Linked DNA regions of Homo sapiens: all the other regions are reported to be linked to region 1. The links are microRNA targets in miRTarBase. Many come from high-throughput screens and were not tested one by one. Region 1 holds a microRNA gene; each other region holds the end of a gene's coding sequence.

Region 1 (7,510 bases):
GCCTGGCACAGGGCAGGTGCTCTGTCAGTATTGTTGGATGAAAGGATGAGTGAATACTTCTTTGACCCATCTCCCACTAATAGCGAGATGTTCAGTCAAAGAAGACATGGGTAAAGGATGAGATGTTAACTCTTGTCCAGAGTGAAGCCTGGTGCCAAGAAGCAACAGGAGGTGGGGAGAGTCTAGCATGTGTTGAGTGCCTACTATGTGCCAAGCATGGCAGTAGATGAGACTTCTTCAATCTCCTGTTCCAAATCTCTGCTGTCCACAGCTATCAGGATGCACTCAGATGCTTAGAAACAGGAAAACAAGGAGAGCTGGGGAGCACCAAAGGGCCTCTGTAGTTTCCTGGGAAAGCAGGATAAACAGTGTTAAGAGCATGAGCCCTGGAGTTGGACAGCTTAGGTCAGATCCCTACTCTATCTACTTACCAGGTATTTAACCTCCTTAAGTCTCAGTTTCTTCATTAGTAAAAAGGGGATAATAAGAGTACCCACCTTGGAGGGCTTCTGTAAGAAACTAAAGCATTTATATGCTGCTGAGACATAGTAAACATTCAACATATGGCAGGCTCTTAATATTATTTCCTCTTCTATCCGCGAACTGCCTGAGATGTTTTTTCTAGCTGGGCATTGGTTTAAAAGTCCCCGAGACTATGTTAGACCCAGGGTGGGATTGTTTTTCCAGGGCTCCTTGCAAGGAACTAGGAGAACTCTGGCAGGAGCACCCTCCGGGAGCAGCAGGGCCTCCTCAGGTGGGTTGTTTGTGGTCAGACAGGTCCTCCCAGTTCCCTCCACACTGAGAGCATTGGAGAGAAAAGAGCAAAATGAAGTGATTACCCTGAGGTACAGGCCATACTGAACACTGTCTGTGAAACAATGGTGGGGTTTGGGGTCCTCTTTGGCACTGACTTAATTTTTTCCTAAGCCCATGGGCTTAGGGGCCAGAAAAGCACCAGGTACTGCGTTAGCAGTGTCCCTCAGGCCAGATGCAGTGGCTCGTGCCTGTAATCCCAGCACTTTGGGAGGCTGAGGGTGGAGGACCCCTTGAGCCTAGGAGTTCGAGACCAGCCTAGGCAACATAGCTAGACCCTGTCCCATTTATATTAAAAAATAAATTTTTAAAAAAGAAGTGTCCCTGAAAGAGTTAACACCAAAAGTATTTGCTAAAGATCTTAAATGAAGTAATTTTTTTTCAGTTACTTGCATAGGAGTAAATAATAGTAATAAGTAACACCTGCTGAGCCCTTAAATGCAGGCATGGTGCGCTACCTGCTTTACATTGAGTTATGTGACCCACCTGCATGTTTCCTCTCTCAGACCAGGTCATCATCTGGTGATGGGGTGGGGGTACAGTTGCTATACCCTCATTATGAATTTCTTTATTAACCTTAGTCCTGTTTACCTCTAACCTAGAGGCTTCTGAGCAAGCGCCCTCCTGTCTGCCATGCTCTCCTCTGGGCAGGTTTAGCTGAGAGCTGGAAGCAGAGATGAGTCAGACATGAGTACAGTCTTGGTCTTTAGGGGCTTTTATCCCACAGCTGATTGTGGCTAGAGGGGGTGGGGCTGTTTTTAGCCCAGCTTGCAGCCTTACCCCCTGCTGCTTGCAGCACCATCAGAAGCATACCTGCTCCAAGAGAGAAAACAGACTTTGACCACAAAAGGACACATGCTTCTCTTTTGCATGTCCTCGGATGCCTACTTGGGATCGCATGGGTGCTGAGAAGATGCTGTTGATGGTTTGCCCTGGTTGTAGCTGCATTTCTAGGGGTGTGGCCTAAGCCAGGCAGTCGGGGTGAATAGGGCTTCTCCTTTCAGAGGTTCTTCCAAGAAGGGAAAATCGTGTGCCCATTGATTTTGTTTCCACCACAATCTTTGTCCAGGCCATCCATCACCTTTCCCCCTGAATCTACAACCCCTTCAGGGGTGTCTCTGTTCCCACCCTTCTCCTGTCCTATACAGTCTGCACTTGATGGCCCAGAGCAGCCTTCCTCTGACTGTTCTCATCAAGTGGCTATAACCACAGTGCTCACCCAAGGCACACTGGGGGAAATTCAAGCTTCTCCTGCCCTTTTCCTAAAATACTCATGACCACCAAACACTATTTATTCCAGTATATCTTGTGGAAGGGGGTGTTGCTGAGTATTAAGCAAAAAACTTTATTTTTGTATATTCAAACTTATGGAATAAGTTCAGGAAATACTGAGTTAAAAGGGTTAAAGTGTTGGTTTTTCAACTGCAGGACTTCTCAGACTCTTTGAGATGCTGATGTACACAAGGGGTATGGGCTGCATGTTTCTACATGCTGATTTGATATAGAACCCTAGATAGAGCATCTCGCAAGACCAGTGGTCCCTGGAACCCAGCTTAGAAAACACTGCCCCAAAGAAGTCTCCTGAGAAAAATGTATTGCTGTTGATCTTTCAGCCTTCGTCACTGCTATCCTTCCCCTAAAGGGCTTGCCTTCAGCCTCTCTACCCATCCTGGTTCCCCCAGTGCTTTGGAACCAGGACAGACACACTCTGCTCCTAATAAGCATTTCATAGTCAGCCCCAGCCCAGAGCTCTCCTTATCATTCATTCATTCATCAAATATTTTTTGAGCATTTACTTTCTTCCAGGAGCTGTGCTAAGAGATATAGTAGCAACCAAGGAACATTCCAGTAGGAAACAGACAGGTAAGTAGATGGGTTTAGTATAGTGTGAGAAGTACAATACAAACACACCCAAGGATAGATCCAGATTGAGTCTTGGACAGTCGGAAAGACTTCCAGGGGAAAAAAAATGGCATCTTTTCTTCATTTCCACACTTAGCAATTTTTCTATATTGGTTTGTCATTTATTCATTTAATCACCAATCATTTATTGTGGGCTGGGCACTGTGCAGAGATAGTAATCAGACTTGACTTGAGGACGATAAGAAATCACTGAAGGGATTTTAAGCAGAGAAAGGACATGATCTATTTACACTGGTAGATGTCACTTTGATTGTAGGAAAAGTGGACCGGCCAGGGCAAGGCTTGAGGCAGGAAGCCAGCTAGGAGACCACTGCATGAACCCACATAAAAATGAGGACCTGGGCTAGGGAAGTAGCAGGAAAAGTGGATTTTGACAGATATCTAGGACAGAGCCAACAGGACTTGGACAGCAATGGGATGTGGGGGAGTAAGAGGGAATAGTTTAGGATGATGTTCTTTCCCCCATCCTCCTTACGTCCCACCCCCCACTCCTGTTTCTGGTGAAATATTCAAACAGGAGTGGGGGTGGGACATAAGGAGGATAGGGAACACAGGATGAAGGGCAGGTTACAGGGGTCCACGTGCGAGGGGAAGATAATGTGTTCAGTTTTAGACATGCTGAGCTCATGATTCCAATTCCTTTGGACATTCCAGTGGAGATATCTGGCAGGCTGATTTTTCTCACGAGAGAAATCATGTCTGGAAATACAGATCTGAGAAGCAGCAGCAACATATGGGTGGCCACCAAAGCCGTGGACTCAGTCAGCACCATTAAGCCAGAGTGATGGGTGAGATGGGTGACAAGGGCCCCCCTTGCAGCAGGTGGGTGACAAAAGAAGAATCAGTGTTGCAGCATGGGAAGGACTGCCCAGAGAGAAAGGAAGTGAACCAGGAGAGGATCTAGAAAAAGGACACTGGGCAATGAGAGCTTGGAGCGGGCCTCTGCACCAGGGGAGGGGTGGCTTTGACTGGCAGATACACATGTCTAGTACACGTGGAGGGTATGAAAACTCCAGGGAAAGAGAGGGGCAGCAGGAGCTCCCTCTTTTTGTAAAACAGGCTTTCTCTTAGGCGTAGCCTTCTAACTGATCTGCCCCACTATCCTCAACCCACTCTCCACTTCATAGCCAGATAGGTCTTTTCAAAACACATCTCTGATCACATCACCGCCTCTCCCCCAGCTCTATTAAAAACCTTTGGATATTTCTATGGCTCTTAGCATGCAGACCAAACTCCTACCTGGCCTGGCCTCTACTTCCTTCTCCAGGTGCACCTTCTGCCAGACTCTCTTGCTCTCTCCCCTGCAGCCAGCTGGCTTCCATTCGGCCTCGCAGACTCGTTGCATGGGTGTTACATTGTTGCTGTCAGAGCCATGTCCACCCTTCCCATCCCGTGGTCCCCCGATCTGCTCTGTGTCACTGGGGGCTGTTCCAGGCTCCAGAGCCAACTGCCTTCCAGTAAAGTTCAGCCAATGGGGAGTGAGGGAGGGCAAAAGATATTGGAGGTGAAGGAAGGAGAAGCCAGAGTACTTCTCCTGCTTCTCTTTCTCAGGAGTCTCTTCTGTGGCTGCAGTTCCCACTACACAGCCATCTCTGTGTGATCCCTGCTACCCATCTTGGCAGGCCCTCTTTGTTCCAGCTTATCTTGTCTTAGGCTCCAGAAACTGTTTCTTTCCTTGTTCTCCAGCTTCCAGGGTGGTGCTATGGGTTGAATTGTGTCTCCCCTGCAAGTTCATGTGTTGAAGTTCTAACCCCCAGTACTTTAGAGTGTGACCTTATTTAGGGTTGTGGTCTTTATAGAGTAGCCGAATTAAAGTGAGGTCATTAGGGTGGACCCTAATCCAATATGAATGTTGTCCTTATAAAAAGGGGAAGTTTGGACAGAGATAGACACACACAGAGGGAAGACGATGTGAAGAGACATAGGTGAAAATGGTCATCTACAAGTCAAGGAAAGAGGCGTGGAACAGATCCTTCCCTCATAGGCCTCAAAAGGAACTACCCCTTCTGACACCTTGATTTTGGACTTCCAGCCTTCAGAACTCTGAGACAATAACTTTCTGTGTGAAGCCACCCAGTCTGTGGCACTTTGTTACTGCAGCCCTAGCAAACAAATACAGTAGTCCCAGCTTCCTGGAGTTGCTACTCTCAGGGTTCCCCTGGGAGCTCTTTCAACTCCTCTGACTCCCCGTATGAAATTCCCTCTATCAAATCACCTAGAGTGGGTTTTGCTTTCCTGGCTGGGTCCTGACTAATATGCCTGCCATGATCCTTTCTGCCACAGAGGACATAGTGCTTCCTCTGCCTGGTATTTTTCCCCCTCTCATCTTTACCTAATGAACTTTCCCTAGTAAACTCATCTAGGTCATAGGTAAATGTCACTTCCTCAAGAAGGCCTACCCCTGTATAGTCATTACCAGCTCTTATGGCTCCAAGCACCACCACTCATGGTTTTGATTTTATTTCTGTGTGTGATTATTAGTTAATGTTTTCTTCCCAGTCCATCAGGAAAGGTAGTCTTTTTTTTCTTACCACTTTCCCCAGAGCCTAGGATGATGCCTATAGTAAATATTTAATACACAGTCATGTGTGACTTAACAACGGGGATACCTACTAAAGAATGCATTGTTAGGCAGTTTCGTAATGAGAGCATCAGAGTATACTTACACAAACCTAAATGGTGTAGCCTGCTACACACCTAGACTATCTGGTCTAGCCTATGGTTCCTAGGCTACAAACACCTATAGTACGTTACTGTACTGAATAATGTGGGCAATTGTAACATAGTAGTATTTGTGTATCTAAGCACATCTAAACATAGAAAAGATACATAAAAATATGATACTATAATCTTAAGAAATCACCATTGTATATGTGGTCCCTCATTCACTGAAACATTGTTATGTGGCTCCTGACTATATATTTATTGAGTGAACGGAGGAAGGGTAGTATAATTTTGTAGATAATGCTAGTATTTATGTGCCAGTAAAGTTCTAAGCATCTTACAAATATTGCATTTAATCCTTTAATCCTCATAACAATTTATGGGATAAGTAATATTACCTCTATTTTACACATGAGTAAATTCACTTATGATCCCATAGCTAGTAAGGATTTGAACCCAGGGACTCCAGCACCAGAGCCTGAACTCTTAATCACTGTTATTCTGGCCTACGCTGTTCTCCCATGTTTTAGCAAGTCTACAAATTTTGTTTGTGCTAGCTTGCTATTATACTATGCCTTGTACCTCTTATTTGCAATGAATTATGTTTAACTTGACATGATATTAGAAAATTTCCTGGACAAATGTTTTCTATGCCAAATAGCACCCCAATAATATGCACCTTGAGTTTTAGCAAAAATTTGGTGACAAACCTATGAATACACAGTCCCAGGATGGTGAGGTTCCTGGGTATCTCACCATCTTTTGTGGTTCTGTGAAATCTGCCCACCTCTCTATAAATCATCCCCTCATTAAAATCCCTTCAGCTAAACCCTTTGGGAATGCCATCTTCCTTCTGGGACTCTGGCTGATACCCTGCAACTTCCTGGGAGCATCCCCTGGCTTTCTTATGTGTTTATGGCACGTGACATTACCATGTGACTGCAGTAGCCTGGGCTGCCTCTCCTGTGTCCGGCAGCTGTTGGCACCACCTTATGTGTGGAGAGTGCCCTGTGTGCTCAGAACACCCCAGGTACTATGGGGAGATGCCCTGGACCAAGACTCTTCATATTTCATGAGCATTACAGCGCAGAGGAAATCAATTTACACTGGCTTATTTGTGGTTTAAAAATGATCCAGCTGGGCATGGTGGCTCATGCCTGTAATCCCAGCACTTTGGGAGGCCAAGGTGGGTGGATCATTTGAGGTCAGGAGTTTGAGACCAGCCTGGCCAACATGGTGAAACCCCCACCTCTACTTAAAAAAATAAAAAATAAAAAAATTAGCCAGGTGTGGTGGTAGGCACCTGTAGTCCTAGCTACTCAGGAGGCTGAGGCAGGAGATTTGCTTGAACTCGGGAGGCAAAGGTTGCAGTAAGCCAAGATCATGCCATTGCACTCCAGCCTGGGTGACAGAGGGAGACCCCATTTAAAACAGAATAAAAAGAATGACCCTAAATCTTCTTCAGGTTTCAGACAAAATAGCAGTTTCTAGAGGGCACAGCCTATGTCCTGTTGTGGTGCATATGGAGGACTACGGTGGCCATACCTTTTTCTTGCTCACTCATTTGCCCATCTTCCTTTGCATGTTAACAGCTGCCCACTGTTCCTGCTGAGGGATTTTTCCTGCTCTATTCCATTTGGTGGAGTAAGGCACAGTGGCATTCCTCTTGGCAGCTGAGATTGGGTCAGGGATGGGACCTGCCAGATGTAATGAAACGACTTTTCCTAGTGAGGTCAACCTGCTAGGAAGATGGGAGTCTGTGGATAACCATCTCGTCTGTCTGAAGCATAAAGTCGAGACATGCAAAGCCAATAAACTGAGGAGACAGAACCTAGCAACATCATTCAAGACCTGGATCCCACCATCCCTGAAGCCAGTGAATACCCTGTATTCCACAATCATGCAACCCAATAAAGTCCTCTTTTGCAGCCGTAGCATGTTTGAGGTTGGTTTCTTCACTCATATCCAGAACATTCCCACTGATAGAGTTGTGGAAGCTTCTTGCTGTCTCCAGTGTACCTTGTAGTCTCTCTTCTAAAACTTTGTTTATACCAACTGTATTTTAAGCTCACTCCCTTATTATACATTGTCTTGTTCAATCACCTGTATC
Region 2 (7,510 bases), not on the chromosome of region 1:
CAGGGGAGCCATCTGGCCCTAGGCGAGGCTGTCTCCCCTTCCCACCTTCTCTGTCAGTGAGGCCTCACAGGTCTCTGATGCTCTTAATCCCTTTCTTCTCTACCCAGGCCCCTACGATGGCCACGTACCAGGTGGTGGAGCTGCGGATCCTGACTAACTGGGGCCACCCCGAGTACACCTGCATCTACCGCTTCAGAGTGCATGGGGAGCCCGCCCACTAGCCCTGCTTACTGGTGCCTGCTGCCAGCCATCTGGGAGTGGGTGAACAGCACCCCGCCGCTTCCCCCACACGCTTGCTCGGCGCTCTGACTTCTAGGAGCACAAGAGAGGAGCCTGTGGCCCCATGCAGATGAAAAGGACGGGCAGGGTCTCCTGAGCAGCAGGTGGCTCGAGGCGGTTAGCAGGCTCCAGCAGCTCCCTTCTTCCTTCCCTCTGTGCCCGTGGCGTCTGCTTCCCATCCTGGGAGTGTGTATATATGTAGCATATCATGGGGGACTGGGAAGTTGGGAGAGGTAGGACCTGACTGGTCTTGGCTGGGGTCAGGGGCTGGTGCCTGGGAGCTGATGAAGCAGGTGCCAGGGCTGTGGGAGGGGCAAGCTACGGCCTGGGCTAGGTGAGCTGCCTCTGCCCCTGGGCAAGGAAGCGAGGCCCTCTGGGAGGAGGGTGCTTAGCTCCAGAGCAGGATGGGACTTCCCCAGGCAGGAAGCACTTGATGGAGAGCTGCCCAGCTCTCCTACAAGGTTAGTGCCCTCCACCTAGGGAAGCATGAACCACAGGGTCCCTGAGGGCCTTCGACAAAAGTGTGTATTTGTCCCGGGGAGGGTAGCAGTGGGCCATGGGGCTTCTTGTGCCCTAAAGGGGACTGGCTGCTGTGATCTTCTAAGGGGCCCAGGGCCAACCCTGTAGGCTTCCCCTCTGCTGGGGACGGTAGTTGCTTTTCTCTCTCCTGATGCTAGGTTGGGGCCCACCCTGCTCCCTGTTCCTGCTAGGGCCTGCCAGTGCCCCTGAGCTTGCTTTCCACATTCTCCCAGGGTATGGAGACCTAGACCTGTCTTTGGGGCCATTAGCATCTGGGGTTATAGCAAGAAGAGTGGGGAGCATGGAACTCCTGGGCTCTTGTGGGGACGTTCAGGGTATCGGGGTGCGAGGTCTGTCTGCACCGGCCCCCACATCTAACCAGGCCCTGATGTAGGGGTCGTCCGCTCAGGCTGCCCCCTTGGGCTCTTGCAGCTCTTGTTCAGGTAGTCGCCCTTCTGGTTTGTTCTCTGTGGGGCAGTTGGTGGGGGCTGGGGGAAGAGGCTGGCAGAAGTTACCCTGGATAGGGAAGGGGGAGGAGGGGACTTTTAGAGCCAGCAGGCCCCACTGTATTATGTATATATTTTTCAAGGTCTGTTTTTCTAACTGAAAAGCTAAGGGCTTGATTCCTAGCCCCGTTCTGTGGGGCACTGGGTGATACTCAGTTTCTTGTTCCTGGCCGTGGAGAGGGGCCTGGGGCACTGGTTCCGGCTGTGTCTGGTGGTCTGGCTGCGGGGAAGGGGCAAGAAGGCGGGCAGGCCTTCACTGCAGCACTGAGCCTCAAATCCGCTCTGGAGCATGAGGCTGGATGCAGTGGTGGTGAGGCCGCCCCGCTCCATCCCGAGGCAGCCAGGGTTTGTTTTGCGCTCTCCTGTCACAAATGCTGCACTATTGGTTCTTAAGTTTTTTATCTCCAGATCCTAATTTATGCCTATGCAAAAAATAAATGACGCCCAAGAGCTGTGGGATGTGGCTTTCATGTGGCTTTTGCCTATCACCTAGGGCAGCTGCTCTTGGGCAGATGAGGGAATGAATTCTTGGCCAAACGAATGTCCCCAAAGACTTATTCCTGAAGTTCAGAAACCCACAACTTTCAGCTAAAGCCCAGTTGTGGTGGGGGATGGGACCTGAGGCAGGTCTCCTCCAGTGTTTGTGGGTCAAGGGCTGGCATGAGGAAGCAGTGAGGTGGCTTTATTAGCTGTCATTGATAACCCATCACAAAGGGTGGGGCGGGAGCAGTGGGGCTTTCCTGTCTCTCAGTACCACTGAACAGCAGCAGAAAAAGTTACACTTACCTACCAGCCACGTCCACTTGGAGTGCAGTGATTCTCCTCCATGGGAATTCGCTATTTGCCCCTTGGACCTGTGACTGGGAAGGGACAAGGAGGTAGGTCCCTTGAACAGCCAGCAGCTTAGGAGAAAAACAGGCCCTGACCTTTCCCACAGATAGCTCCCCAGACCTGGTTCGCGTGGTTCTCTAGCCTGATCCTGGAGCCTCTCATACTGACCGTGGCACCTGGCCCAGGGCTGCTCCTCATCATGGCTGAGAAAACAAAGGCAGAAAGCCAGTCAGTAGGGAGGACTGTGGAGACAGCCACAAGGCAGGAGCTGGGTGAGGCACAAATCCAGCCCCCAAAGCCTTGGGCCAGCTCCTCAGCCTCTTGGGAGACAGCTGGTCCTGTGCTCACTCCCCTTCACTGACACCTGCTCTGCCTCTGACGCCATCTAAACAAAGGAGACATCCCCACGCAGCACCAATAAACAAGCCCCTGGAAGTTGCCACACACTGTGGCAAGAGTCCAGAGCCTGGGCTGGGCACATGCCCTCTGCCCATCTGTACATTCAAATCCTACTGGGCCCTCACAGCACAGCCCTCACACTGCCGGCTCCATGGTACTTCCCCCAACCCAACTAAACCTGTGCTGCCCCTGTGCGTGGCATATTCATCCCTGTGACCTTCTCTGTGCCAGGGTGGCTGATAAGCCAGAACAGTCCTGACTGTGGAGTCAGGGGTCTGGCCATCCCCATCCCACCATCACAGGCCTTACTCCTGGGAAAGACGCCACAAACACCTGCTGCACACACAGAAGGGTCAGGCCTTGCCATTGGAGGTGATTGGATTAACAATTTTATTCTGCATCCACTACAAAAGGGCTGGTGTTTTGTTCCAAATGTTTAGCTGGGAGGGCTGTAGGGACCCCTGTTACCCCCATTAAACACAGTAAAGCATGGATCCAGTCAGCCCCCTGCTGGCAGGTGTGGGCCTGGCAACTACACAGATCCAACCCCACCCTCCTGGGTGCGGCCAGAGGCCAAGGCAGTCGCCCGAGCTCCTGAATCCCAAGAATGGTTCTGGCAAGTACTGCTGTTTGTTTGTAGGGGCAAAGAGTTAAAATAAAACGAGGTTCTGCCATGGCTAAGCCTTGTGGAAACCAGACCCCAAAGCCCCTGCCATGCCAGGGGTCTCAACGCCAGACGCTTGTTATGGAGGCACCAGCAGGTAGTGGCCCCTGTAAGCAGGGCCAGAGTCGGGACAAAGAGCAGGAGTGAAGCAGCCAAGAGACAGAGGACCAGGCTGGAGCCAGTGGGCACGCAGGAGCCTGCCTGGGAAAAGCCGGGGGGCAAGGCTGGCATGGGAATGAACACCTGCTGGTGACACCTCTCTGAGCTTCAGTTCCCTTAACTAGAAAAATAGAACAGGCCCGGTGCGGTGGCTCATACCTGTAATCCCAGCACTTTGGGAGGCTGAGGCGGGTGGATCATGAGGTCAGGAGATCAAGACCACCCTGGCCGACATGGCGAAACCCTGTCTCTACTAAAATACAAAAAGTTAGCTGGGCGTGGTGGCGTGCACCTGTAGTCCCAGCTACTCAGAAGGCTGAGGCAGAGAATCACTTGAAACTGGCAGGCGGAGGTTGCAGTGAGCAGAGATCACACCACTGCACTCCAGCCTGGCAACACAGCGAGACTCCGTCTCAAAAAAGAAAAAGAAAAACAGAACAAACATCGACCTCAGGGGCGGCTGCTGGGAATGTCAACAGGAGCGTGTGAGACTCCTGGCAGTCCCAGCCAGAGCTTTCCTTTGGAGCCTGCCCAGGGCACAGAGGTGGCAGGGTGGCTAACGGTGTGCAGACCGCTCACTGAGCAAGCCTTTCCCTTGTGTAGGACACCCCAGGGCCTCACATTCTCTGAATCCACACAAGGTGATGGATGGCTTTGCCTCTTGTAAATGAGAAAACTGAGGTTCAGAGAAGGTTTGTAAGCTTGTCCCGTGTCACCAGCTGGTGAGGGAGCCTGAACACGGAAGCCATGCCTGCCTGACTGGGAAAGCTGGGCTCCTCACAGCACTGCCCTGCTCCCAGCTGTCGCCAGGGGCCCCAGGGCAGGCAGAGCAACTGCGTTCCCGTGGCAGCACCTCCACCTGGAGGGGCTGGGCAGGGAGCACCACACTGTCAACTTGGAACAAACTTTTATTTTGAATGCTGGTCTGATCAGTCCACGGCCAGGGGTAGGTGGTAACTAGAAACAGCTGGAAGGAGGGAAGGAGAGGGGACCAGCAGTCCGCAAGCAGGAGGAAAGGAAAGGGTTGGGGACAGGAGGAGGCAAGGCTGAGGAAGGACCCAGCCAGCTGGGTGTCTGCCCCGGCTAGAGAACGAACCACCCCCACCCACCAGCCTACCCTCCATCTGTGGCTTCAGTGCAGAAGTCAGTCCAGGTGGGTTCAGGCCCATGCCACCTTCTCTGGCCTGCACAGTCCCACCCCAGGCAGGGGTTCTTCCAGAAGGCTAAATGCTCTGTCCTAACCCTGGAAGTGTCCTTTCACTAACCCCTGCCTGCCCGCCCCACGCTCCAGTTGGGTCTTTCAAACCTGGAGCTCAGGCCTTCACTACTGTGCTCCTGTAGCAGCCACAGGGGTGGCGTGGTGGGGAAGATGGGGTTCTAGTCTCAGCCTGGCTCAGGGAAGATGGGGTTCTAGTCTCAGCCTGGCTCAGGGGAACATCCCTCCACCCCTCCAACAGGAGGTGCTACAAAACATGATCCTGAGCAGACCCAGACCCCCTTCTGGTAACCAGTGCCTGAGGCCCAACAAGAAGCGGGGTGATGGGAGGCTCCAGGCCGGGCAGATCAGCGAAAGCTGAGGGCAGCCAGGGCCGGCCCAGGCAAACGCAGGATTGTCTCCAAGGGGAAACCCACCAGCTGTCTTTGGGTTGGTGGCAAGGGTCAGGGTCAGGGCCCGAGATGGGGAGAGTCCTATAATCCCATCGCCATTCCCCTCCACATGTCTCCAGGTTACAACCAGAGAGCTTTTGGCATGACCTGAATCTGTGGGCTTAAAGGGAAAAAGGAGGAGAGAGAGAAAAGGGAAGCCACTACTTTCTCCCTGTTAAAATGCCCAAGTCCTAGACTGGGGGTTCCTGCTCTGGCAGCAGCAGACACCAAATCCCAGAAGCCCCTCCACCCGGTCTGGCTCCATGGAAGGTGCCCCTGAGTGCCAAGAGGAGCAGCAAGATAGGGAGGGCGGCTCCTTCCCCTCCTGACATCCCCTGACCGCCCCGAGGATTCTCAGAGACAGATACGCAGGCAGACAGCCATGGAGGAGAAAAGAGAGGTTGACAGGGCCCTGGGGGTGGCACTCCTGCACCACACACACACACACACACACACACACACACACACACACAATAGAGAGAGACAGAGACATATAATAAACAGAATAAAAACTAAGGGCCCAGATGTACAAAAAATGTGTGAGTGAGGAAGAAGGTGGGGAGGACAGTGAGAGATGGTCAGTCCTCCGGAAGTCTGGCTACCTTCGTCAGCTTATAAATTACAACCCCCCTGGAAAATGGGGGTGGGGGCAATGCGGAGGCTCCGGCTGTGGCCTGAGCGGGAGGGCTGGGTGGCGGTCATAGCTGCTCTGCCCATCTGGTGGAGTGGTGGCCAGAGATGATGACCCCTTGGGTGGTGAGGGTGGGCCAGGGGAAGGTTCAGCAGCCGCTGGCAGGAGTCACACAGGCCCCCTGGGACTTCACCTTGTGGCGCTGGCCCCCTCGTCGCCGGCCTCCACTGCTGGGCTTAGGCTGAAAGAGAGAGAAGGAGCTTGAGAAGCACTGGCCCATCAGGAGCAGGGCCAGAGAGCAGAGGTGCTGAGCAGCGGGGAGACAGGGACGGAAGATGCGTGAGCAGGCTGCGTGGTCCTCACCCTAGCCTGACCAGGAATTTACTGGGTCACTCTGCATGCAGCACCTCCCCTCTGTCTCTAAAATGGAGCCAGTGCCTGCCCTGCCTTCCTTACAGGGTGGGTAGGACACACATGATGAGGGTGTGAGAAGCGGCCGTTCAGAGAAGCACAAAGCAGAGCAGGAGAGAGAGAAAGGAAGCGAACGAACCAGAGGAAAGACCCATGGGAGACAGATAACAGAATGGACAGACAGATCCAGGCATAGCCTCCTTTTCCAATGAGGGGACAATGGAGAAAGATGCTGGGGAGAGGGGTGCAAGGGGCACCAGGCCTTCATCACGCCAGGAGAGAGTGCCTGTGGGAGACAGCTGGCAGGAGATGCCGAGTAAGAGGCGCACTGGCACATCCCAAAGCCACCTCCCCTTCAGGATGTGTGCACGTCAGGGAGGGGACAGAGGAGGACCCTCTAAGGCAGTGTCTCTCAAACCTGCTGGACTGCAGTGCACACATATATCACTTGGACACTCACACCAGCAATACTTGCAATACTTAATCTTACTATGAAAGGGAAGCTTCGACATTTTTCTGTTCTATTTTATTTCATTAAAACCAAATGCTAGTTAGGGCCAATTAAACTGGTTTCAGGTGGGCTGTATTCCCTGATTTGGAAGCACTGCCTTATAGCTTCTAGAGACAAATGCCTCATTCTTAGGAGCACTTCAGTGCCAGAGCTGTGGAGGAGACCCTCTAGCCAGGTTTGAGGCTTGCCTACATGTCACCCTCACCGAATCAGAGTAAAAGCCACAGCCCCCACCACCATGCCGAAGCTGCGAGGGGCCCGTGCTCACCTGAGGCTGGAGATTGCTGGACGCAGCTGGTTGCCCTGCCCCTACAGAGGAGGCTTCATCTCCAGGTGGGGGTGCTCCTACTGCTGGCCCACCAGACGGGCCCCCCTCGTCTCGTTTCGTCAGGGGGCCCTTTTTCGTCGACTGCATTTTAATCTGCTGCGGCTTGGAGTTCATTGGGGAGTTGTTGGTGGTCTGGAGGAGCTGTGGGAGCCATGGAGAGAGGCTGAGGCTGGAGCTGCGGGGCAGTGGCACTGGCTTGGCTACCCCCCACCCTCAGCCCCCTTCTCCCACAGACTCCTCATTCCTTGATCTTGCCAGTTCAGGGCAAGGCAGATGGCAGGAAGGCTGTGACAGGAGGCAGTGGGGATGAAGAGGCATTCTCATCCCCACTCAGTGGCTGAGGACTGCTATGGCCCTGGACTCATGCCTCACTTCCTGCCTCTGCCCAGCCCAGAAAGGCTCCATCCTGTTCTCTGCTGCAGCTACTATTCCTGCAGAGAAATTGGTGAACCTTGCTCCCACCTCCCGCTCAGTCCAGCCCCCAGAGCCCAGAGCCTGCACAGAGCCTGGCAAGTGGAGCTCCGGGATCTCCTGATTGCTAAGCTGGTGGAGACTCCTCAGAGCATGCTGCAGCTCCAGCCCCAGCACGCTGCTGCTGCCCCCGTAACAAGTCTAGGGCAAGTGT
Region 3 (7,510 bases), not on the chromosome of region 1:
AGAATGAGGCCTCATAGCTTGCCTTTTTCAGCCTCTTGGTTGTGTGGCAGAATGAGCTGATGACTCTCACCTGACAGGAAGCCTGTGCCTGGAACTTCGGGCTTTGCTTTTCCTTTTCTGTGTTTTTGGTGTGCCCCACTCGCTGTCTGCACATTCTGTGCTGGTGTCTGTTGTAAAGACTGGAGAATCATTTGTAGGACTTGAGTGCAGCACAGTCAGTGTGCACAGACTTTTCACGGCCCTTGTAATGTTACAGGGCTGCGTCTGATGCTCGGATGTGGGCCTGTCTGTGAGGCTCAGGTGACACTGAGTGTGCCACAGAGTGGCTGTGGGGATGGGAGCATTGGCACTTCCCATTCAGACTGGGAACATGCAGGCAGCTTGAAAACAGCAGGTCTTTGGGGGAGGTGCCTCACTTCTTAAATTTGGAGTCCTCCCCCAAGAGGGTGAGGAATAGGGGTGCTTTCGGGAAGTCATTCACTTTTTTTTTTTCTTTTTGAGACAAAGTTTTATTCTTGTTGCCCAGGCTGGAGTGCAGTGGCACAATCTCAGCTCACTGCAACCTCTGCCTCCTAGGTTAAAGTGATTTTCCTGCCTCAGTCTCCTGAGTAGCTGGGATTACAGGCACCCGCCACCACGCCTGGCCAGGTTTTGTGTTCTCAGTAGAGACGGGGTTTCACCACGTTGTCCAGGCTGGTCTCCAGCTCGTGACCTCAGGTGATTGCCTGCCTAGGCCTCCCCGAAGTGCTGGGATTACAGGTGTGAGCCACCATGCCTGGCCTTGTTCATCTTTTTTTCCCCCTTTTAGGTCGGGATCAAGAACCAGAGATCGCAGGAGGTAGGTTTCCAGGTCCATTAAAATGTTCTCAAATTTTTTTTTCCATAAGCATTTTTCTTAATATTTAATGATTATGCCTTTACAAATGTTACCTGGCAGGTAGGGCTGGCTTGTGAAGGGCACAGGGCAAGAGGTTGCTTGGTGCCGTGGAGGGTTCCCAGTGTTAATGAGAGGGAAGGTCGGGGCCTGCAGGGTGACAGGAGTATCCAGGCCACATGTTTTCAGGAGACCTCATTGGAAGGACCTAGCCATTGGAGATTAACTGATGGAAATATTTTAAACCTAAATTTGTGGGAGTAAAGGAGAAAATGTCAGTAAAGCAGCAAGCAGAATCTGCTGAGGGGTGGGGCCCTCATAGTGTTGGCACCTATAGAGTCTCAGCCTTGGAGCCTTCTGATTGTTCAGGTCACGCTCCCGGGATCGGCGTCGGAGGCGGTCAAGATCTACCTCCCGAGAGCGACGGAAATTGTCCCGGTCCCGGTCCCGAGATAGACATCGGCGCCACCGCAGCCGTTCCCGGAGCCACAGCCGGGGACATCGTCGGGCTTCCCGGGACCGAAGTGCGAAATACAAGTAACTACTCTGACTCCTTCGGTAGCTGCAACCAGGAGTGAGCCCTTCTCTGTGTTCCCAGGGTCTGCTGAGGGCCGTGTCTGGTGGGGATGGGGCTGGGCTCACCCTCAGGAGTAGGGCTGGGGAGTCGTGAACGGGACTCAGGTGTGGGAAGAGGCGAGAGGGCTGTGGAGGAGCTCGCACGGCGCCAGGTGATGGGCTGCACAGGCACTGTCCCCTGCCTGCGTCCTGGGGCCTGTGCACTGTTGCGTCCATGCTCAGAGTGGCTGAGACTTGTGTCCTGACCAGGCCCTGCTTACCTCTGTTTTGGTTTTTGTTTTTGATATTTTTTTTTCCATTGTGTTTTTACGTAGTGTCATGTTCTGTGCATATAGTGTTGTATTCTCCTTTGCACTGTTTATGTTACAGTGAAGGCTCTCCTTATTAAAAATCTTCGCAAAGGTCACTTTTTAATGGCTATCTAACACTCCATATGTGGTGGGCAAGTCTGGTTGGCCTCCGGGGGGTTTCCAGGTATAGGGGATGTAGGGCCTTGCCTGGCCTGGTCTGCGGGTCCATCGTCAGTGCCTGAGCGGCCAGCAGAAGGGGGGCAGCAGCCTCCACTGAGCCTCTGGTTCCCATTTCCCAGGTTCTCCAGAGAGCGGGCATCCAGAGAGGAGTCCTGGGAGAGCGGGCGGAGCGAGCGAGGGCCCCCGGACTGGAGGCTTGAGAGCTCCAACGGGAAGATGGCTTCACGGAGGTCAGAAGAGAAGGAGGCCGGCGAGATCTGAACCCGTCTCCCGGGTGCTGTAAATAGTCTGATAAACGTTCACACAGTCTAAAATTACCCTTTATATTTGCTGAATACAACTCATCTTTTGTAGTTTAAAATTTCTATTGTTTTGGAGCTAGCTGTGAGTTTCTAGAAGTGTACAGAGTTGCTCCTGTGTTCCCGGGTCATGTTGAGTAGGAATAAATAAATCTGATGCTGCCTCCTGAGGCTGCGGGGGGTTTCTGCTGTCCTCTGCGTAGAGGCTTTTCACTGTGACCCTGTGCCAGTGCCACCAGCACCTCACAGAAACCGTGACTTACTCGTGGGTCACGTCTTGTCTTCTGGCATCCAGTAGATGGCAGGGCACTTCCTGTCCCCTGCATCTGACTGACGGGACCCAGGTGTGCATGGGTGTTTGTTTGCTCGCTCCCACACAACCTTCTGAGTGTCTGAGCTGCCCATCTCCCATGGGGAGGAGGGAGGGGTCCCCATTCTGCATTCATTTATTTAGGAAAAGCTGTCTTGTCTGCTCAGCTGCTACCATAGCCTTAACTTGGGACTCAGGTGAGTTACACTGCATGTCCCCTTTTGAAGTTACTAGCAGAAAACAAAGACCCATGGGGCTGGGCATGGTGACACATGCCTGTAGTCCCAGCTACTACTAAGAAGGCTGAGGCAGGAGGATCTGTTGAGCACAGGACACTGAGGCAAACCTTGATTCCGCCACTGCACTCCAGCCTGGGTGACAAGAAAGCCCTATCTCAAAAAAAAAAAAAAAAAAAAAAAAAAAAAAAATGGTTTGACTCATGTCCCATGTGGGCTGATTATGTTTCCCACCTCTCAGTTCGTTCTTTTTTTTTTTTTTTTGAGACGGAATCTCACTCTGTCGCCCAGGCTGGAGTGCAGTGGCGTGATCTCAGCTCACCGCAACTTCCGCCTCCCAGGTTCACGCCATTCTCCTGCCTCAGCCTCCAGAGTAGCTGGGACTACAGGTGCCTGCCACCTTGCCTGGCTAATTTTTTGTATTTTTAGTAGAAACGGGGTTTCACCTTGTTAGCCAGGATGGTCTCGATCTCCTGACCTCGGGATCTGCCCGCCTCGGCCTCCCAAAGTGCTAGGATTACAGGCGTGAGCCACCGCTCCTGGCCAACACCTTTCAGTTCTTTCTAACATACCTGCTGTACATCAGGCAGGTACTTTAAGACCAAAGTAAAGGGGGACGCGGTGGCTCACGCTTGTAATCCCAGCACTTTGGGAGGCAGATAACCTGAGGTCAGGAGTTCGAGACCAGCCTGGCCAACATGGTGAAACCCTGTCTCTACCAATATACAAAAATTAGCTGGGTGTGGTGGCGGACACCTGTAATCACAGCTACTTGGGAGGCTGAGACAGGAGAATCGTTTGAACCCGGGAGCCAGAGGTTGCAGTGAACCGAGATTGCATCCAGCCTGGACGACAGCAAGACTCTGTCTCAAAAAACCCCCCAAAAACCCAAAATGAAGCCCTTCTGAAAAGGATAACTGCTAACTAATGTGTAGATGATGGGAGCTCCTTCCCTTTTTCACTTCGTGGGAGATTTTTTGGAGGGAATTCCTGAGGTTCACATTGTTAACACATAGCCATCCTCATCCGCTCTGTTTCTGCAGGGGTACACATGCCACCCTTGAGCTGGCTGGCTCAGTGGGCGCACACGGGCGCTGTGGTCTGGGTCTTTCTGCCACCGGTATCACAGTGTAGCTGGTGGCCTTGCTCTGGGCTCTCCTGCCACAGGCTGTCCCCTCCAGGAGGACAGATGGGTAGGTGGGCTGCTCTGCCAGCCCGTGACACAGGTCTAGCCCAGCCAACTGTCTCCAAGGAAAGGAGGGTGGAAGGGGCCGCCCTGTACAGGAGTCACTTGGGATTGATGCTGTGCTTTGCAGGCATCACCCATGTCGATATTCCCTGCGTGTTGCTGTTCCTCCCGTGTTGGTATTCCCCCCGTGTCGCTGTTCCCCCCGTGTCGCTGTTCCCCCCGTGTCGCTGTTCCCCCCGTGTCGCTGTTCCCCCCGTGTCGCTGTTCCCCCCGTGTCGCTGTTCCCCCCGTGTCGCTGTTCCCCCCGTGTCGCTGTTCCCCCCGTGTCGCTGTTCCCCCCGTGTCGCTGTTCCCCCCGTGTCGCTGTTCCCCCCGTGTCGCTGTTCCCCCCGTGTCGCTGTTCCCCCCGTGTCGCTGTTCCCCCCGTGTCGCTGTTCCCCCCGTGTCGCTGTTCCCCCCGTGTCGCTGTTCCCCCCGTGTCGCTGTTCCCCCCGTGTCGCTGTTCCCCCCGTGTCGCTGTTCCCCCCGTGTCGCTGTTCCCCCCGTGTCGCTGTTCCCCCCGTGTCGCTGTTCCCCCCGTGTCGCTGTTCCCCCCGTGTCGCTGTTCCCCCCGTGTCGCTGTTCCCCCCGTGTCGCTGTTCCCCCCGTGTCGCTGTTCCCCCCGTGTCGCTGTTCCCCCCGTGTCGCTGTTCCCCCCGTGTCGCTGTTCCCCCCGTGTCGCTGTTCCCCCCGTGTCGCTGTTCCCCCCGTGTCGCTGTTCCCCCCGTGTCGCTGTTCCCCCCGTGTCGCTGTTCCCCCCGTGTCGCTGTTCCCCCCGTGTCGCTGTTCCCCCCGTGTCGCTGTTCCCCCCGTGTCGCTGTTCCCCCCGTGTCGCTGTTCCCCCCGTGTCGCTGTTCCCCCCGTGTCGCTGTTCCCCCCGTGTCGCTGTTCCCCCCGTGTCGCTGTTCCCCCCGTGTCGCTGTTCCCCCCGTGTCGCTGTTCCCCCCGTGTCGCTGTTCCCCCCGTGTCGCTGTTCCCCCCGTGTCGCTGTTCCCCCCGTGTCGCTGTTCCCCCCGTGTCGCTGTTCCCCCCGTGTCGCTGTTCCCCCCGTGTCGCTGTTCCCCCCGTGTCGCTGTTCCCCCCGTGTCGCTGTTCCCCCCGTGTCGCTGTTCCCCCCGTGTCGCTGTTCCCCCCGTGTCGCTGTTCCCCCCGTGTCGCTGTTCCCCCCGTGTCGCTGTTCCCCCCGTGTCGCTGTTCCCCCCGTGTCGCTGTTCCCCCCGTGTCGCTGTTCCCCCCGTGTCGCTGTTCCCCCCGTGTCGCTGTTCCCCCCGTGTCGCTGTTCCCCCCGTGTCGCTGTTCCCCCCGTGTCGCTGTTCCCCCCGTGTCGCTGTTCCCTCCGTGTCCGTATTCCTCCCGTGTCCGTATTCCTTACCTGCACCTTTTCCTGCAGGTGGGACTCAGGGTACTTGTTCAGCACATGTGCTTTCCTCTTCGTCTTCTAGGAGGGAGTGGTTGGGTCTGGGCTCCCTGTTCCCAAGCCCACGTTGTGTTCATGGCTGTGGCTGCCTGGGTGATGAGTGTGAGTTTGCACCTGGGTTTCCCTGGGCCTTAAGCAGACAGCGTCACCCTCAGAGCCATCACCACTGTGAATCATTTGGATCTTTTTCCATCTGGGCATAAAATTGTATGTGTAGACAAATAGTTGTTTTTTGCTTTTTTGGGTGGGGGGGGTCAGGGTGTGGGGTTTACAGAAAAGGTGCTGTGCCCCTGGCCATCCTGTCCCCCGTGTCTGCTGATTACAGCTGAAGGACAGGTCCTCCTGGGATGCAGCATCAGTGTCCTCGGCCGCCCCTGGTAGCCTCCGGGGCACCATCCGTGCAGGGAGAGGCGCTCCTGCCTCTCTACCGTGCAGGGACAGTCGGGTGGGCTTTTGGTACACCTGCCAGGTGGTGCTGACCAAACTGAGCTTCATGCCCCCGGTGCAGTTTCGCTGATAGCACCCACAACAGCTCTTCCTTTCTCCCTCCTCCCTCCCTCCTCCCAAATAACCCACACCAGGTTCTGCTGTCAGAGTCTGCGATAGGAGTCCCATGTTTTCACTTTTTTCACCCAGTACAGCGAGTCCTTCCTTTCCACTGCAGTACCAGTAAATCTCGCCAAAGATGGCTACTCGGAGATATATGGGTCTGGAAGTGTATCCCTCCCATGTGAAGGGGTCTGTAGTGTCAGGTGGAACCGGCCCTTGTCTCCACCCACAGGGACCACCTTGGCCTGCAGCCCAGACTGCAGGAGAACAGAAGAGAAGGGGGCCTCTCCAGAACATTTGGCGATTAAAAAAAAACTTTTTTTTTTTTTTTTTGAGACGGAGTCTCGCTCTGTCTCCTAGGCTAGAGCGCGGTGATGCAGTCTCGGCTCACTGCACCCTCTGCCTCAGCCTCCCGACTAGCTGGGAATACAGGGGCCCGCCACCATGCCCGGCTAATTGTTGTATTTTTAGTAGAGACAACGTTTCACCATCTTGGCCAGGCTGGTCTTGGACTCCTGACCTCGTGATCCACCCGCCTTGACCTCCCAAAGTGCTGGGATCACAGGCGTAAGCCACGGCACCTGGCCAAAATTATTTATTTATTTTTTTTGAGACGATGCTTGCTTTGTCACCCATGCTGGAGTGCAGTGTTGTAGTCATGGCTTACTGCAGCCTTGAACTCCTGGACTTAAGTGATCCTCCTGCCCCAGCCTCCAAGTAACTGGGACATAGGTGTGCACTACCACACTTGGCTAATTTTTTATGTTTTTGTGGAGACAGGTCTCACTATGTTGCTCAGGATATTCTTGGGAACTCCTGGGCTCAAGCAGTCTTCCCACCTCAGCCTCTCAAAGCACTAGGATTACAGGTGTGTCACCACAGCTGGCAGTGATTTTTTTAAAGGTAAATGGCTCTGTTTGGTGGGTGCTGTCGGCGCCAAACTAGCTGGATGGGCTGTGCCTTGTACCACCTTTGCCTCCTGCACAGGGTTACCTTGGGCTTGGGGAGCGCATGGGCCTTGACCGAAGCCCTGAGTGGGTTAAGGGTAGTCCTGGGGGGAGGAGAGGAGGATGCGGAGGCCGTTTCCTACCCCAGTGTGCAGCCGTCATGGGACAGGCAGGTGCTGGAGCAGGCCGAGGACCCCTATCTGGGGTGGCATCCTTTGGGGGAGGGGTGGCAGCCTGGAGCCAGAACCACGTTGGCCAGGATGGAACTTTTTTTTTTTTTTTTTTGAGACGGAGTCTCGCTTTTGTCACCCAGGCTAGAATGCAGTGGCGCAAACTCGGCTCACTGCAAGCTCCGCCTCCCTGGTTCACGCCATTCTCCTGCCTCAGCCTCCCGAATAGCTGGGACTACAGGCGCCCGCTATCACGCCCGGCCAATTTTTTGTGTGTTTTTTTTAGTAGAGACGGGGTTGCACTGTGTTAGCCAGGATGGTCTCAATCTCGTGACCTTATGATTTGCCCGCCTCGGCCTCCCAAAGTGCTGGGATTATAGGCGTGAGCCACCGCGCCCAGCCAGGATGGAACATTTTTTATTATAGTAAAGTGC
Region 4 (4,412 bases), not on the chromosome of region 1:
CACACCTGTAGTTCTAGCAACTCGGGAGGCTAAGGTGGGAAGATCGCTGGAGTCTGGGAGGCAGAGGCTGTAGTGAGCCAAGATTGTGCCACTGCACTCCAGCCTGAGCAACAGAGCAGGACTCAGTCTCAAAAAAAAAACAAAAACAAAAACAAAAAACAGTATACTATTTAACATGGCAAACTCTTTATTAGTAGTTCTTCTCTCTCCTTTCCCCACAGGTCCACGAATCTTACAAGCACCTGAAGTCACTGCAGTCCAAGCTCTGAAGTGTCACAAGGACAAGTTTAATCTGCTTCAGAAAGCGCCTGTGTGCAACTCAAATTTTGTGGAATCTTTTTCGAATTCAAATAGCTATAGAGCAAATGATAAATTGACCCCTTTTTATAAATGGAGGGAAAAAATGAACAGATTTCAGAGATTAAATGAAAAAAAGCAGATGTTTTAAGTGCAATTAACACTGAAAGAGACCTGTTAAACCATTCAGAAAAAGCTTAAGAAATGCGATATGACTTCCTTTTGTAATGCTGCTGATCCCAGTAGACTATGACTTTTGATAATTAGCAGAATTTAACTACTGAGTAGTTGATTATTTTCACATTTTAATTGCTAATCACTGGCTATATAAGTGTTTTTAAGCAAAGGTATTTTTGAAGTGGTGTAGAACCCTTCCAAGCTTTCCTGCTCAGTGTTCTACCAGACTTACCCTGGGGCCTGGCTTAAAAGCAGGATTGAAGAAAAGGGACTGGGGGAAGGAAACTTATTGGAAAACTTGATGCGAATGAGTTTCTGCTTGGCACAGTCTCTGCCTGCTTGCTCTCCTTTGCTGATGGATTGCATTTATCAAACTATTCATGCTAGCATTTTTCCAACGAGGGAACTTATTCCGCACGGGCCTACTGTAGGACCATTGTCTCGTGTAATTAGGAATTTTCCATTTGAAGGATTGCTAAATTGTCACAGTAGTAGGAAGTATAGGGAAACCTCTCAGCTGTGGCACTGTTGTAGCTTTGGAGTGCAGAGTGTAACTCTGGGACAATCAGATTTCACATATTCTGTCATCTTGGCATAAGCCATTAAAAGCTTGGAGATTACTGTATTTGGCATTAAAAAAAAATGTCACTTAGGTCAGCACTCCCAGACGTAGCACAGAAAAACCCTTTGACACAAACCATGTGTTCTGATTTTTGGTTCAGAAAATATTGAAACTGTGAGTTGTTTTTTTTTTAACAACTGGGAAAAAACAAAAACAAAAAACTATAGTTAGAAAAATGGAAGTTCCATAGGTTCTATTTCTTACTCTATGTATGGCTTTGTTTTCAGTCTATTTCTAGGAGCTTTCTCTGAATCGCTAATTGTCCTTTCAGTTGAAATCTAATTTATACAATCATTCTATACTTAAAGGTTAAATACATCTTAATTAATTTTTTCTTAAAGTCAATGTAAGTCACTTTGTTTTGTTTTTTTTTAATCTACGCCATATGCCTCATGAAACCAGCTGTTCTAGAATCAGTCCTGAGAATATGGCTTAATTCCATGGAAACATAACTCCTATCTTGGGACCTGACATAATATCTATCTATCCTGGGGAACTGGTAATATGAGACTTATAGGTTACAGCAGAAATGCTACATGTTGACAAAAGCCTTAATCGTTCCACTGGGAGAACTAATTGATAATTGTGTTAAGATTGAAGATTAACCCTGTGTTAATCTCACTTGAGTCTATCCTGACAGTAGTTCAGATTCTGGAAAATGATAAACTGACCTGCTAGATGTAGAATTGTTTCAAAATTAGTGTTGAAATACCTTGTTCACAGATGAATATCTGGGCAGGATCTGAGGGTGTTTGGAATGACACCCCCCAATCCAGTTGCATAGATGGGATGTCTTTGCAGGTTTGAGGAGATCATCGACCTGCAGAGCCCCCTTTGACCCAGTACCTCACGTTTTATTTAAAATCTAAATCTGGGGCCAGGCGTGGTGGCTCACGCCTGTAATCCAAGCACTTTGGGAGGCCGAAGCGGGTGGATCACCTGAGGTCAGGAGTTTGAGACCATCCTGGCCAACATGGTGAAACCCCGTCTCTACTGAAAAAAATACAAAAATTAGCTGGGCATGGTGGTAGCACGCGCCTGTAGTCCCAGCTACTCGGGAGGCTGAGGCAGGATAATCGCTTGAACTTGGCGGGTAGAGGTTGCAGTGAGCCAAGATGGTGCCACTACACTGCAGCCTGGGTGGCTGAGCGAGACTCCGTCTCAAAAAAAAAATCTAAATCTGACATTTGATGCTATTTTTATTAATATTGGAATGTTCTGTCTTGAACTTTATTCAATATAATCAAGAATAAAGATAGAGTAAACGTCACTGATTTGTACTATTAAGAGAGAAAAAATATGCCACACAACTAAACATAGGTTTAAATTATGAAGAAATTTAGAATAGAGGTTTATTAGATTTAGGGAACACTAAGAACAAAAAAGGAAGGAGTGATACCTGCCTGAGTGGACAGCTGTAAATCAGCTGTAATTACTGCAGTTGTACCAATAGTTGTGAGTGGCTCCAGTCACTTTAGGAGTCCTTGGAAGTACTTGGTACACATTTGTTGGCTGTACCTTAAAGGAAGTGGCAAGTCCAGTTTGTTCTCTCTACCACACTAGACTGCCACTGACAAGTTTGGGTCTGTTGGATTCAAAATTTTGTAAGCCATTTTCACAAGTACAAAGATACATTTTAACCTTGTCTTCTCCAAAATTACTGAGTAGGAATTTTATTTTTATCTTTTTGAGACAGGGTATCACTGTCACCCAGACTGGAGTGCAGTGGTGGGATCTTGGCTTACTGTGACCTCTGCCTCCCGGGTTCAAATGGTCCTCCCTCCTCAGTCTCCTGAGTAGCTGGGACGACAGGCACGTGCCACCATGCCCAGCTAATTTGTTCTATTTTTTCTGTAGAGACGGGGTTTTGCCATGTTGCCCAGGCTGGTCTCAGACTCCTGGGCTCAAGCGATCATTTCGCCTCAGCCTCCCAAAGTGCTGAGATTATAGGTGTGAGCCACAGCATCTGGCCCAGAGTGAGGAGAATTAATGAGATTTTTTGTGTGTGTTAGATAATATTGATTTAAGCCTTTTTTTAAAAAGTACTCTCAACCAAATACAAAATTGAAAATGTGAGGTTTAATAGAAATGTGTTGGCTATTTGCAATGGATTTTCTTCTTGCCCAAGTGTTTGGAGTTCTACTTTATGCTCTGTATTTAAAAATTAGTGACCTCAAAGCAGAGTTGATGACACAGGCTTTGGGGCCCTCATGTTCTTGTCTTTAGAACATATCACTACTAAGTATCAGCTTATCTTCAGAACATTACAACATTCACCGTGTTCATATGCTTTCTGAGAAGTCACCACTTGTAATTTCAGATCACATACACCTGAAGGCATTTTATAGTTCCTAAAGTTAACATGTTAGATCTTTTTTTTCCACCCCATGAGGGTCTCACTCTCACCCAGGCTGGAATGCAGTGGTGTGATTGTAGCACACTTTGGCCACCAACTCCTGGGCTCAAGTGATCCTCCTGCTTTGGCCTCCTCTGAGAAGCTGGGATTACTGGTGCACACCACCACACCTGGCTAATTTTTTATTTTTTTTTATTTTTGGAAATAGGGTATGGCTATGTTGCCTTGGGCCCGTCATGAACTCCTAGCCTCAGGTGACCCTCCCACCTCAGGCCTCCCAAAGGGTTGGGATTACAGGAGTGAGCTACTGCACTGGGCCAACATGTTAATTTTTTTTTTTTTTTTTTTGAGATGGAGTCTCCCAGGCGGGAATGCAATGGTGCGATCTCGACTTCACTGCAATCTTCACCTCCCGGGTTCGAGCGATTCTCCCACCTCAGCCTCCTGAGTAGCTGGGATTACAGGCACCTGCCATCACGCTCGGCTAATTTTTGTATTTTGAGCAGAGATGGAGTTTCACCATGTTGGCCAGGTGATCTGCACTCCCACTCCCCCCACACTTCCCAAAGTGCTGGGATTACAGGCATAAGCCACAAGCCACCTCACCCAGCCAACATGTTACATCTTAATTCTTGGATTTTCTTCACTGCAGGGCTTTGGGTGGAGAAATAAAACTCTTCAAATGCATGATCTTGGAGATCCCTGTGAATCAATAATTCTTTAGACAACTGCGGCTCAAAATCCCTCCTTTCCCTTTTCCGAGTTATTCCATCCATCTTATTAGAAAGGAAGTGAATTAGGTGTAGGTGGTCTGTAACACCTGCACATCTTTTTATACGTGTAGAGGGTATGCCTGGGATATATAGGTTGTCTTCAAGCAGTAGCTGCTACTACAGCTAGAGAGAGGAGGAGTGCCAGGAAACTGATGACCTGAGACCAAGAGTCTTGTTGATGTTCTGA

What was found. Region 1 holds the annotated microRNA hsa-miR-4433a-3p (ACAGGAGUGGGGGUGGGACAU, at 3,250-3,270, shown strand). A microRNA usually pairs through its seed, bases 2 to 8, with sites in the 3' UTR of a target mRNA and lowers its output. Matches are read on the target gene's strand: a 7mer-m8 pairs with bases 2 to 8, a 7mer-A1 pairs with bases 2 to 7 and ends in A, and an 8mer does both.
Region 2: the mRNA of SUN2 is a reported target of hsa-miR-4433a-3p. Seed matches in the 3' UTR shown: 7mer-A1 at 370-376, 7mer-A1 at 944-950 and 7mer-m8 at 1,105-1,111.
Region 3: the mRNA of LUC7L is a reported target of hsa-miR-4433a-3p. Seed matches in the 3' UTR shown: 7mer-A1 at 2,383-2,389.
Region 4: the mRNA of ACOX1 is a reported target of hsa-miR-4433a-3p. Seed matches in the 3' UTR shown: 7mer-A1 at 2,886-2,892, 7mer-m8 at 2,991-2,997, 7mer-m8 at 3,549-3,555 and 7mer-A1 at 3,894-3,900.

The regions. Positions count from the first base shown.
Region 1 is chr2:64,337,560-64,345,069 of GRCh38, forward strand. It overlaps MIR4433A (microRNA 4433a), which reads left to right and starts at 3,200; the gene lies at 3,200-3,280. It overlaps MIR4433B (microRNA 4433b), which reads right to left and starts at 3,289; the gene lies at 3,188-3,289. It overlaps LOC105374768 (a long non-coding RNA gene), which reads right to left and starts at 4,150. Exons shown (of 3, transcript NR_189739.1): 1 at 3,976-4,150; 2 at 498-798; 3 at 1-348.
Region 2 is chr22:38,728,978-38,736,487 of GRCh38, reverse strand. It overlaps SUN2 (Sad1 and UNC84 domain containing 2), which reads left to right. Exons shown (of 18, transcript NM_015374.3): 18 at 108-1,754. The coding sequence ends at 221. It overlaps GTPBP1 (GTP binding protein 1), which reads right to left. Exons shown (of 12, transcript NM_004286.5): 11 at 6,826-7,026; 12 at 2,901-5,876. The coding sequence ends at 5,784. Among named protein-coding and RNA genes, the nearest start is that of SUN2, 23 kb to the left of the region's middle. RefSeq lists an enhancer at 4,292-4,341.
Region 3 is chr16:183,869-191,378 of GRCh38, reverse strand. LUC7L (LUC7 like) reads left to right here. Exons shown (of 10, transcript NM_201412.3): 8 at 809-838; 9 at 1,244-1,411; 10 at 2,040-2,389. The coding sequence ends at 2,181. Among named protein-coding and RNA genes, the nearest start is that of HBQ1, 7.2 kb to the right of the region's middle.
Region 4 is chr17:75,942,605-75,947,016 of GRCh38, reverse strand. ACOX1 (acyl-CoA oxidase 1) reads left to right here. Exons shown (of 14, transcript NM_004035.7): 14 at 222-4,412. The coding sequence ends at 269. Among named protein-coding and RNA genes, the nearest start is that of FBF1, 3.8 kb to the right of the region's middle.